3 separate regions of the Homo sapiens genome follow, and all the other regions are linked to region 3. Evidence: fine-mapped expression QTL. A gene starts in region 3. Each other region holds a variant in brackets. All regions are shown on one strand. Distances are from middle to middle. Region 1 has its middle 36 kb from the start of TBC1D15. Region 2 overlaps LGR5 (leucine rich repeat containing G protein-coupled receptor 5). Region 3 holds the start of TMEM19 (transmembrane protein 19).

Region 1 (4,364 bases), 120 kb after region 3:
TCGAACTCCCGGGCTCAAATGATCCGCCCGCCTTGGCCTCCTGAAGTGTTGGGATTACAGGCATGAGCCACAGCAACTGGTTCTCGAGTGTCTTTTGAAGAACAAAAGTTTTTAATTCAGTTGAAGTCCAGCTAAATCTTTTTCTTTCTGAATTGTGTTTTGGTGGTGTTTCTAAGAAATTTCTGCTTAGCTCATGGTCACAAAGATTTTCTCCTATGTATTCTAAAAGTTTTATCGTTTTAGGTTTTACATTTAGGTTTATGATTCATTTGGAATTACTTTTTGTATATGGTACAAGGTAAGAATTGCAGTCCATTTTTTTTGTTCCAGCACTAGTTGTTGAAAAGGCTATCCTTTCTCCATTGCATTGCTTTTCACTTTTTTTTTTTTTTTTTTTGAGACAGAGTCTTGCTCTATCGCCCAGGTTGGAATGCAGTGGTGTAATCTTGGCTCACTGCAGCCTCCATCCACCTCCTGGGTTCAAGCGATCCTCCCTCCTCAGCCTACGGAGTAGCTGGGACTACAAGCATGCACCACCATGCCTGGCTAATTTTTTAATTTTTTATAGGGACAAGGTCTCTCTATGTTGCCCAGGCTGGTCTCAAACTCCTGGGCTCAAGAGATTCACCTGCCTCAACCTCCCAAAGTAGTCGCATTATGGGTGTGAACCACTGTGCCAAGCCTGCTTTTACACCTTTAAAAAAAATGAGTTGTTTGTCTTTGAGTGGTTATATTTTGAACACTATTCTGTTCCACTGATTTGTCTATTTTGATGCCAATACCACACTGTGCTGATTACTGTAGCTTTATAGTCTCAACATCAAATTGTGCTAACCCTCCACCTTTGTTCTTTTCCAAATTGTTTTTTATTATTATTGTAGGTTCTTTGCATTTTCATATGAATTTTAGAATCAGCTTGTTAATTTTTATAAAATAATAAAAAAGCCAGGCATGGTGGCTCATATCTGAGCCATGGTGGTGAGAAATTGAGTGTGATAGGGGAAAGGGTGGGAAGCAAACTTCTATTAATAACTGGATACCTGTTTGTATTTTTTTTTGCGGGGGGATGGAGTCTAACTCTGTCGCCCAGGCTGGAATGCAGGGTGCAATCTCGGTTCATTGCAACTCACTTGAACTCCCAGATTCAAATGATAGTCTTGCCTCAGTCTCCTGAGTAGCTGGGATTACAGGCACCTGCCACCATGCCTGGCTAATTTTTGTATTTTTAGTAGAGATGGGGTTTCACCATGTTGGTCAGGCTGGTCTCGAACTGCTGACCTCGTGATCTGCCCACCTTGGCCTCCCAAAGTGCTGGGATTACAGGCATGAGCCACCGTGCCTGGCCCTGTTTGTATTTTTTTTTAAGTAGAAGCCATGCAATATATTGTCTATTCCACAAAAATAAATAAATAAATAAAAATATAAATAAATAAATAAATAAAAATAAAACTTAAAGAAAGATTAGGTGTAAACAGCATATACTAAAAAACTGAGTATTTTTACTCAAAGAAAACGAAAAATGGGATAAAGGAAATGACAGAGTAATAAATTAACAAAGATAAATTTAATCATTTAAGAATACTTGGTATTTGCAACGGACTTTGAAAGAAGAGAAACATGGATCAATGGTAACATTTTAAGAGAAGTAACATTTTAAGAGGAGGATATATGCAAAGTCATAGAAATGGGAAACAGCAAATTTTAACTAGCAAATTAATTTGGCTGGGTCACTGGGCTTGGTAAGGGAAATAAAAAGGAAAGATGAGCAGGTGCTTTGCAGGAGAATCAAGACTAACCTAAATGGCAATTTCATATGGTTCAACCCGATACCTCAGGCACATATTTACTTTCAACTTTCTTAATTTGGCCAATAGATATTTAATAAGTGCCTGTTATTCATCAGGTCGAGTGCTAGGTGCTGCATGTGTTCACAGTGGTAAACCAAATGGACATGATCCCTGTCCTAATAAAGCTTTTAGTCTAGTGGGCATTTCTGGGCCTCAGGAAAATGAGCAACCTTTATGATCCTTTTTGTTCCAAAATTCTGGCTATATATTCAGTCTGACATTCTCTGAAAATCCCTAACCCTTTGTCTATTCTTACCATCATCTATGTAAAATTCAAGGTATTCTTTAAACTCTTTGAACTCCCTCTTCCTCACCTTTCTCTCTTATCGATATACAGTAGGGATTGAGACCATGGACTTAAAGACCAGATGCCTGGGTTTGAAATATTACTTATATTTTTCTGTGTGATGTGGACAATTAACTTTCTGTGTCTCAGTTTCTTCACTTATAAAATGGGGATAATAATGTACCT[T/C]ATAAGGTTTCTCATAATAAATGAGTTATTACATACAAAGTGCTTAGAATACTCTGACACATGGTAAATTTTAAATAAATATTAGCAATTATTGCTATTAACAGAAGATTTTGCTTATATCATTCTTTCCCTCCAGGGTTAACACTCTCTACTACCTGTATCCCACCCCTTTCTACCTGGTGGTCTTTTTATAGATTCTCCCATTTTCCCCACAGTATATTGAACAAACTGTCTCTTTACTGGCCCTTTTTCTAGAATTATAAACATGATCAAGTTCCTTCCACAAAATTCATCTTTGTGAACCTCTCTTCCTTCCTATGAAAGTTCACACTGTTGTTTCCATGTTCTCCTGTTCTCTTCTCAACCTACCACAATTTTTGACTTGATCCCATAACTCCACTAAATTGCTTTTACCTAGGTCAATTACAACGTTCTTCTTGATAACTCTTGTGTCATCCCGTTGAACCCCATAACTTCCTGTTCACCCTTCTTAAAATTATAATTTCTTCAACACTTCCTATTCCCTCTAACATAGTGTACTTTTTAGTCATTCTTTCACGTCTGTTTTCCCTGGTTGGAAGATAAAATCAGGAAGTGATATGTACAGGAGGTAGGGAGATACTGGGTACAAGGGGGCGGTTCCTTGGCAAAGACCCCACCCTCAAGTCTGGAAACCCATGGCCCTAAATGGGAACAGGCATTTCTGTTTTCAGGCCCAAATGTTGCCTTTTGGTCTGCCACACCCCCCTCTCCTGTACCCAAATAAACCCTAAACCCTGGGCTCCATGAGCAGAAGAACAGAGGAGTCAGAAGGGCAGTGCAGCAAAGAAGGAGAGATGAGGAGTGTGTGAACATTGAGAGGAGTTCGGCTGGGGACGGTTGGAGAGATCGGTGACGGGATGGCCAAACTCTAGGGGAAGGTCATCTTCCCACTCCATTCCCTTTCCAGCTCCCCAATTATCCTGCTGAGTGCTACCTCCATCTGGCAATAAAATCCCCTACATTTACCATCCTTCAATTTGTCTGTATGACCTGATTCTTCCTGGACGCTGGACAAGAACCCAGGTATCAAGAGGGCACTGAGCTGGTTAACACTTAAGCTGTCTGTGGAGAGCACAGCTGAAAGAGCACCATAACACGCCCACTGGGGCTTCAGGAATTGCAGGCACTCACCCCTAGATGCTACCATGGGGCCGGAGCCAAAAGCACTCTCATTGGCTCCTGCACCTGCCCATCTACATGCTCCCCCTTCTTGCAAGGGGTTTGAGCACGACAAGCCACATCCCTGTCACACATCCTGCGAAGGGGGTCAGGGAACTCTCATGTTTCAGGACAGTGATTTTGTCCACGTTGTTCACTACTGTATCCTTAGCATCTAGAATAATGTCTGGCACATCCTAGACTGTCACAAAATATTTGCTGAATAAATACTGAATTGTGATGATCTGTTTTCTTGTCTTCTAAATTAGAGCAGGAACTCCTTTGAAGACTGGAACTGCTGTTCTTATCTCTTTATTAGTCCTTTTGGCTCAGTGTCTGGCTGCAGGTGAATGTGACAGTGATGAGTGCATGGGGAGTCATTATGGTACCAGTATTTTTTTATTTCAATAGTGTTTGGGGTACAGGTGGTTTTTGGGTGCAGGGATAGGTTCTTTAGTGGTGAATTCTGAGATTTTAGTGCACCTGTCACCTGAGCAGTGTACACTGTACTCAAAATGTAGTCTTTTATCCCTCACCCTTCTTCCAACCTCCCACCTCAAGTCCCCAAAGTCCATCATATCACTCTGCATGTGTTTGCATCCTCATAGTTTAGCTCCCACTTATAAATGAGAACACACGGTATTTGGCTTTTCACTCCTGAGTTACTTCACTTGGTACCAGCACTTTTGTAAATGCTTCTGGATGATACTCAAAGGCCTGAGAAAGTAGTTTTTAAATTCTACTCTACTTTTTAGATCTCCAAAGAGGTGATATTAGGATTTTGCAAGCAATGGTGATTTAAGTTGCCTAAAAAAACTGTTTATCCTTTTAAATTCTATTATTTA
Region 2 (4,000 bases), 120 kb before region 3:
CATAGCAACAATATCAGGTCGATACCTGAGAAAGCATTTGTAGGCAACCCTTCTCTTATTACAATGTAAGTGACCATAATGCTTTTCGGTTTCTCCATCCTGAAATATAGCATATATTATACTTTGAAATACAATGAATATTCTATATTTGCCTGAGTTTTGTCTTAGTCAATCTAAGAGTTCATACAGAAAGGTATATACACATGCATTTTGCCAGGTTCTAGCTGAACACTGAAATAATATAAAAGATTTTTTTAAAGATCACATTATGATTGGTATCTCCAGATGTGCTAGGTATCTTTAAAATAATCTTGTAAAATGCTTTTGATTACCTCTATTTTCTAAGAAATAAAACTGATTTTTAGAGCATTAATGTCAAGTCTGCATAGTCATTCTGAACTTAAACCCGAGTATACTAGAAATATAAATTATTATATACAAATGGATGTCTTTTACAGCAATAGACTCCAGCCTAAATTGATGGTAGGGGTTTTATACTGTTTTGTGCTAAGCCTCTATCTCCATTCATTATTATGCCCAAACATTCACATTTATACAAACTAGGATGTAATTCTAGAATGATAAATAACATTTTAGAAAGGTGTGTATGAGGATTTATATGCCATAAAAGAATAAAATCGGCCAGGCACTGTGGCTCATGCCTGTAATTCTAACACTTTGGGAGGCCAATGCAGGAGGATCACTTGAGCTCAAGAGTTGGAGGTTACAGTGAACTATGATCATGCCTCCGAAGTCTATCATGGGCAACAGAGCCCTGTCTCCAACAAAAGGATAAAATAGAGTTACAACTACAAAGTATAACTAATTTTATGTTTCATATTTAATACAGTAGAATGATGATATACAGTTCTGAGTATGAGGCTGGCTCTTAGACAAAAGGCTCCTCTCGGAGGCAGATTTGGGACACCATCAAACCTGAGGTTGTGAATGAGAAGCCTGAATATAGAGGAGGAGAGTAAGGACAACTGTTAAACATGACTCTAGGGGCACTTCTCAGCAGATGTTGGTCCTGTGCCAACTGGAGTGACGGGCTTTCTGGGACCATGTGGTATTTGTCACAAATGAGCAGGAGTCCCAATTAGCCTTGACAACCAGAAGAAAAAAACTATTCATTGTTTCTGAAATGTTCTGGCAATATTTTGGCAAACTAAGAGTTTTAAAGTACATTGACAATAAACATTAGCCCTCATTAGAGCGTATTTGCGTATTAAGAGGTTGGCAAATTACATTGCCTTTGCTCCTCCTTCTGCAGCCACAGTACTGGTTTTTCATCACTCTTTTGATATGCTAATACTCCCTGAGGAACTAGCGGCGCCAACCCCAACTCTATATATATTAGACCTCCTATCCACTATTTGACAGTGGTGACCACTTTCTCCCATAAACTCTCCTCTCCTTGCTCCTGCATCTGTTTCCATCTCTTCAAAGCCCGCATTTCTGTGAATGCTTTCCAGGTCCAGTTGGCTACCCACTCCTCATTTCCACCTCTGTAGTCCCCATCCTATCCATACCTCCTGACCTCCACTGCACCAGCCTCTCTGCCAACCATGACATCCAGATTTTCACCAGTCTGCGTGAGGCTGGCCTCCCTCCCTTCACCGTTGGCAGCACTCATCTTCCTTGAAGCACGGCAACCATCTTGTTACT[T/G]CTGCTGTGAAATGTGCGTTCAGGATGTCTATTTACACTAAATGCAAACTCCTCATCCTGACATTCACAGTCTAAGGCCACACATGGCCTAAGCCAACCCTGTCAACCAGTTCCCCAAAGCTCTCCTCATTCACCCTAATTCATAAACCAGACTGACTAAGTTATGTTCACGGAACAAAGCTCTTTTCTTACTTCCTTTGCTCCTACGATCCCATTCCCTCACTATGCTTCTTGAAATTCTTTCAGGGCCCATTTTAAAAGCCATTTCTTGAAGTTTTTTATAATCTCTCCCGAACATATGAGAGAGTTCCCTCCTGAGAACCCTAAAACTCCTTATGTGTGTTTATGATACTTCTGCCTTATGCACACAAGCATGTATATTCATACCTGCCCAGTGTGTGTGTGTGTGTGTGTGTGTATATAGTGTGTATATATATACTGTGTGTATACATATACATATATACATATATATGTACACACACACCGTGTATATATGCATATATACGTATCTGTACACACGCACTGTGTATATATGCATATATACGTATCTGTACACACGCACCGTGTATATATGCATATATACGTATCTGTATACACGCACCGTGTATATATGCATATATACGTATCTGTACACACGCACCGTGTATATATGCATATATACGTATCTGTACACACGCACCGTGTATATATGCATATATACGTATCTGTACACACGCACCGTGTATATATGCATATATACGTATCTGTACACACGCACCGTGTATATATGCATATATACGTATCTGTACACACGCACCGTGTATATATGCATATATACGTATCTGTACACACGCACCGTGTATATATGCATATATACGTATCTGTACACACGCACCGTGTATATATGCATATATACGTATCTGTACACACGCACCGTGTATATATGCATATATACGTATCTGTACACACGCACCGTGTATATATGCATATATACGTATCTGTACACACGCACCGTGTATATATGCATATATACGTAACTGTACACACGCACCGTGTATATATGCATATATACGTATCTGTACACACGCACCGTGTATATATGCATATATACGTATCTGTACACACGCACCGTGTATATATGCATATATACGTATCTGTACACACGCACCGTGTATATATGCATATATACGTATCTGTACACACGCACTGTGTATATATACATATATGTACACACACTGTATATATACATATATACATATATGTACACACACTGTATATATACATATATACATATATGTACACACACTGTATATATATACATATATACATATATGTACACACTGCATATATACATATATACATATATGTACACACACTGTATATAGATACACATATATGTACACACACACTGTGTATATATACACATATATGTGCACACACTGTATATATACATATATAAATATATGTATACCCACACACTATATATACATATATGTGTATATATACATACGTATGTGTATATATACGTATGTGTGTATATATACGTGTGTATATATATATACGTACATGTATGTGAACACAATTATATGCATAAAGTACATGGTATAGCTAAGAGCTGATAAGATATTAAGAGGAAAGCTCCATTTTTCATCATAAGGCCCATATTCCAGCTCTAGCTCTTTCTCTTACTGATTAATCCCAAGAGAAAAGAAGAGCTCAGTGGGTAGGACAGAAGAGGATTTAGGTTTGTTGGGTAGCAACTGTATCCCAGGTTCTATTTCAAATGTTACACATGCATTAGCTCTTTTAATTCTTATCCAAACCCTACCACTAAGCATTATTATCTCAGCTTAACAAATTAGAAAATTGAGGCTCTAGGAGGTAATGAGCTTGCCAAGGTGTCTGAGCCTCAATTTTCTCTTCCAAAAGTGAAGAAAATAGTATCTACACTATGAATCTCATAAAGTTGTTGCATGGATCAATTGAGCTATATATATATATATATATATAGCTCATATATAGACATATATACATATACATATATATATATATATAACACATACATATATGCAAGAGCTTTGTTAAGTAGAAAGTGATATGCTGTTATTTATTTGCTTTATCCCAACTGAATCCAGGCTCCTTTACCACAGGAACATCTTATCATTCTTCTTCAAACCCCCAGCATCTAGTATAATGCCAAGTCCAAAGTAGTTACCCAATGACAGCTTTTTAATGAATCAATCTTTAAATCCTCACATACCTACCCTCATACTTTAAACGTGGTAGACATTAGTGAATATTTGTTGAGTTTAATTGGACTAGAAGAATGACTCAGCTAAAAAGTATATGGCAC
Region 3 (4,364 bases):
TTTCCCATTGGTTACTTGGTGTACACCTTATGTAAATGTAAATGAAGTACTAGCCCACAATCAGTCTGATTGGTTGTGAAAAACAACCAATTAGAGGCTGAAGCAAAGTTACAAAGTTACACTCCTACGCAAACGTCTGATTGGTTGCAGAAAGCTACCAAGCAGAGATACTTTCAATTTTCTATCTGCCACGCAGAAAAAAAGAGGGGTTTGCAAAGGGCGTAGCTTTGGGTCCTTTTGTTACTTAGGTATGGGAAGTTGGGGTTTTCCTTTTGATTTAGCTCTAGGAAGTCAGCATGAATCGGCCTTAGGTTCCCTGCCTCAATAGGAGACCCTATTCTCCTGCCTCAAGATCATGTTTAACCCTTGGTAACTGAAACTGCCTATTGCATATAAGAACTACTGTATTTTAATTATATTAACTCCTCTAAATTATTTTGGTCTTAAGCTAGAATAACTTTTATGGAGAAAAACATCTATAATTGGTCACTGAAAAAAATAGAAGGGAAAATATTCATCTAAAGGGTCAGTTCACTGACACTACTATTTAATATGCATTTTTTAGCCAGATCTAATAGTCATGAGAAAATCATCCCTGACATCCAGGGACTGACCTGACACAGCTACACCACAGTGTTGGGAGATAGCTTGACATTCACAACTAGGCTATGATTTTCCTATCGAACACCAACTAATCAGAGAGGGTCACTCTGTGACTGTGGTGAAGCAAGGCAAAAAAAAGAAAAAAAAAAAAAAGACCAGTTTATAATTTTGTCTAAGCAGAGACAAAAACAATGCGACTGTGCAAACCACAAAACATTAGCTTTCATTATTAATAATTTTACCCAGTAGTCTGGTAACATTGATACTGGCCAGTCAGCTTGGTGAAATAATCCAAACATTTACCTATGCAGAACAGACTAAGACAAAAATAAAGTAGGCACATAATACATTTCAGCATAAAGACCATATATGTATATTATCTAGTACAGGAAGCCCACTACTATTTAGTCCTACTTCACAGATTTGATTCTTAGTTAACTACTTAATTAGATGTCTTACCAAAGAAAATGACAAGCTGTCTTGGCATGTATTTTGAAATTTAAAATAATGTGAGCTTTTTTAAAGTAACTACTCTTGGGGCTTAAAACACAATTGCATACTGTGTCTGAAATGGATTTGGCTCCTCTTCTTACACTGTCAGCAATTAACTGAAAAAATTGATAAATATTATGTAATTATCAGTTAATTACTGTTAACCCAGGCAAACAAGTTAATTTCACATAAAACATGAAATCAGGCCGGGCGCTGTAGCTCACGCCATTAAACCCAGCACTTTGGGAGGCCGAGGTGGGTGGATCCCCTGAGGTCAAGAGTTCGAGACCAGCCGGGCCAACATGGCAAAACCCCGTCTCTACTAAAAATATAAAAATTAGCCGGGCGTGGTTGTGGCGCCTGTAATCCCAGCTACTCCGGAGGCTGGAGCAGGAGAATCGCTTAGAACCTGGGAGGCGGTGGTTGCAGTGAGCAGAGATCGTGCCACTGCACTCCAGCCTGGGCGGCAGAGAGAGACACTGTCTCGAAAAAAAAAAAAAGAAAAGAAAAGAAATCAGCCACGATTCAGATTTTTAATGCTAACAAGACGTTTTGCTTTCTAAATGCACACACCTTTAATATAAGGGGTGTGAGGACAGATATTTCCACAATCTAAGTGGTGTTATGACAATAATTACGAGAGCTCAGTAATAGAAACTATGTTTAACTTTACCTCGCTAGCAGCCAGGAGTCTAGCACATTATAGGTACTAAACAATGTTGTTTAGTACCTATAATGTGGTTTTGGAGAAGCAGTGCAAACGCAGCCGGCCAGGATGCCAGCAGTGCCTGCCCACGTGAGCTAGGCGACATCCCCCTAAGCGGCTGCGGCGCATGCCCACAGCGGGCGAGGCGCTAGAGGCGGGGGCGCCGGGAGGCGCGGGCTTTGCTCCTGGGGTCTCGGCCTTGGCCGGCTGGACCTGACCCTAGGGCGGCTTGCGCAGCTGTCGGGACGTGACTGCGTTCAGCCGCGTCGGGCGTGCTTCCCAGACTTGCCCAAGTTCGGGTGCCCTAGCTGCCCCTTTGCAGCCGCTGGCCTACCCGGCCCGCGGGTGAGAAGGTTGCGACGGGAGGTGGGTGGAACTCGCCAGCGCCGGGACCGCGGATTGGCTGCCTCGGCTTTCTCTTTTCCCCGTGGGCTCCGGCGTGAGGCGCTGAAGCGGCCGGCAGCCGGCGACCGGCCCTCACCGTCCGCCGGGTTGCGCTCTGCTTTTGCGGTGAGGCGTTGACCACGCCCATATGAATTGGAGCTCTCCGCCAGTAGGAGTTTCCGGAAGGAGTTTGAATTTTTGTGATTTTTATGCTTGTTTGGTCGGTGGAATATGTTGGGATTTATGTTTGCCTCTGAACAAGTGTCTTGCTCACATCGTAAATGACTTTCTCTCCGAAACGCTAAATATTCTTTCCCGCAGGAGCTCATATCCTTATTTTCCATGACAGATCTTAACGACAATATATGCAAAAGATATATAAAGATGATAACTAATATAGTTATACTGAGCCTGATCATTTGCATTTCGTTAGCTTTCTGGATTATATCAATGACTGCAAGCACCTATTATGGTAAGTCTGAGTGTTCTAAGTTGTTTCTCTGTAATCTAGTCAGAGGAAATTAAAACCATACCATTGTGAAATCCAAAACTCATATCCTCTGAATGGTTATGAATGGTTGTGTTTACTTAACTTCCATAGCCTGATTTAACTTACTAACATGATAGTATAAACAATGCCTTTAATAAATGCTTGTTGTGATAATTCGAGTTATACCTATTTCTTTTTTTTTTTAATTTTTATTTTGTATAAGATAGGGGTCCCTCTGTGTTGCTAGGCTGGTCTCAAACCCCTAGGCTCAAGTGATCCTCCCACCTGTGTCTCCCAAAGTGCTGGCAATACAGGCCACCACTTCTGGACTAGTTACACCTATTTCAAAATGTCTTTATATTTTATGTAACTATTCCATCTGTCTTGGTAAAAGATAAGTGAGGCGAATATAGCTTTGTAAAGCAATTACAGTGATGCTTTTAATTTTGAATAAGAATATTAGTAATGGGCCAGGCGCGGTGGCTCACGCCTGTTATCCCAGCACTTTGGGAGGCCGAGGCGGGCAAATAACCTGAGGTCGGGAGTTCAAGACCAGCCTGGCCAACACGGTGAAACCCCAGCTCTACTAAAACTAGAAAAAAGCTGTAATCCCAGCTACTTGGGAGATGGAGGCAGGAGAATCACTTGAACCCTGGAGGCGGAGGTTGCAGTGAACCAAGATTGAGCCACTGCACTCCAGCCTGGGCCACAGAGCGAGAATCCGTCTCAAAAAAAAAAAAGTAGTAATGTAGTTTATCAGTTTCACATGTTCTGTAAAAATAATAAGAATTAAAAACGGTATACTATTTACATTTGGAGAGCTGAAGGACTTATCTGCCATTTGGTTGCTTCAAAAGAATAGACTCCTTTTAAAGCCTAAAGCTACATTGCTTAAATATAAGGTACTCTGGACTCAGATCTTTAAAGTTTTAAAGGTGCTTTAGAGCATAAGCCTCCATTTACACAAACTTCCTTCTCCTATGAAAACAAAATACTGGTCAGTTTGCAACAAAGGAAAAATGAAAAGGAGAATGAGAATGCTTGTATCGTAAGGGATTGCCATTTCAGACTGTAGGCTTTTTGCAAAGAGACATGTGAATAGTTGGAAAGGGTTCTCCAGGCTACAGAAGCTCTCAGTGCAGTTCGTTCATAATGATTCACAGTGGGGCATCAGAGTTTTAGGGGAGGGGTGTAAGAAAAGATTCTTGTTAGTGACAGTATTTACTATGACTTGAACTAAATGGAATAAATCAGGATTTGTAAACTGAAATATCCCTCTGGGGCCAGTCACCTAATGCAAATGAATCTGTGTACGTTTTTGTGTATTAGACCTGTGGTAATAGTTTTCATTTCCAGAAATAGGATATTTCTCATCTTTTGTTGAATGCTTGGGCCCTCTTTGTCTTTCATTTCCCCTTTATTTTTCTGAGACGGAGTTTCGCTCTTTTTGCCCAGGCTGGAGTACAGTGGCACGATCTCAGCTCACTGCAACCTCTGCCTTCTGGTTTCTCCTGCCTCAGCCTCCCAAGTAGCTGGGATTACAGGTGCCTGCCACCATGCCTGGCTAATTTTTGTATTTGTAGTAGAGACAGGGTTTCATCATGTTGGCCAGGCTGGGTCTCGAACTCCTGACCTCAGGATCCTCCTGCCTTGGCCTCCCAAAGTGCTGGGATTACAGGCATGAGCCAC

The links. PIP is the estimated chance that this variant, and not a neighbour inherited with it, causes the effect. A credible set is the group of variants that fine-mapping cannot tell apart.
Region 1: its variant is the best candidate, but not a certain one, in a credible set for the expression of TMEM19 in nasal epithelium (TOPMed, PIP 0.65).
Region 2: its variant is the best candidate, but not a certain one, in a credible set for the expression of TMEM19 in atrial appendage (GTEx, PIP 0.67).

The regions. Positions count from the first base shown.
Region 1 is chr12:71,801,179-71,805,542 of GRCh38, forward strand. No RefSeq gene overlaps it. Among named protein-coding and RNA genes, the nearest start is that of TBC1D15, 36 kb to the right of the region's middle. The variant T/C (reference allele first, on the strand shown) is at 2,320.
Region 2 is chr12:71,561,788-71,565,787 of GRCh38, forward strand. It overlaps LGR5 (leucine rich repeat containing G protein-coupled receptor 5), which reads left to right. Exons shown (of 18, transcript NM_003667.4): 8 at 1-65. The region is part of intron 2 of LOC105369833 (a long non-coding RNA gene); the gene reads right to left. Among named protein-coding and RNA genes, the nearest start is that of ZFC3H1, 100 kb to the right of the region's middle. The variant T/G (reference allele first, on the strand shown) is at 1,669.
Region 3 is chr12:71,684,154-71,688,517 of GRCh38, forward strand. TMEM19 (transmembrane protein 19) reads left to right here and starts at 1,929. Exons shown (of 6, transcript NM_018279.4): 1 at 1,929-2,657. The coding sequence starts at 2,528. It overlaps LOC124902965 (a long non-coding RNA gene), which reads right to left and starts at 1,911. Exons shown (of 2, transcript XR_007063367.1): 1 at 1,769-1,911. RefSeq lists silencers at 2,201-2,270, 2,261-2,476 and an enhancer at 3,825-3,894.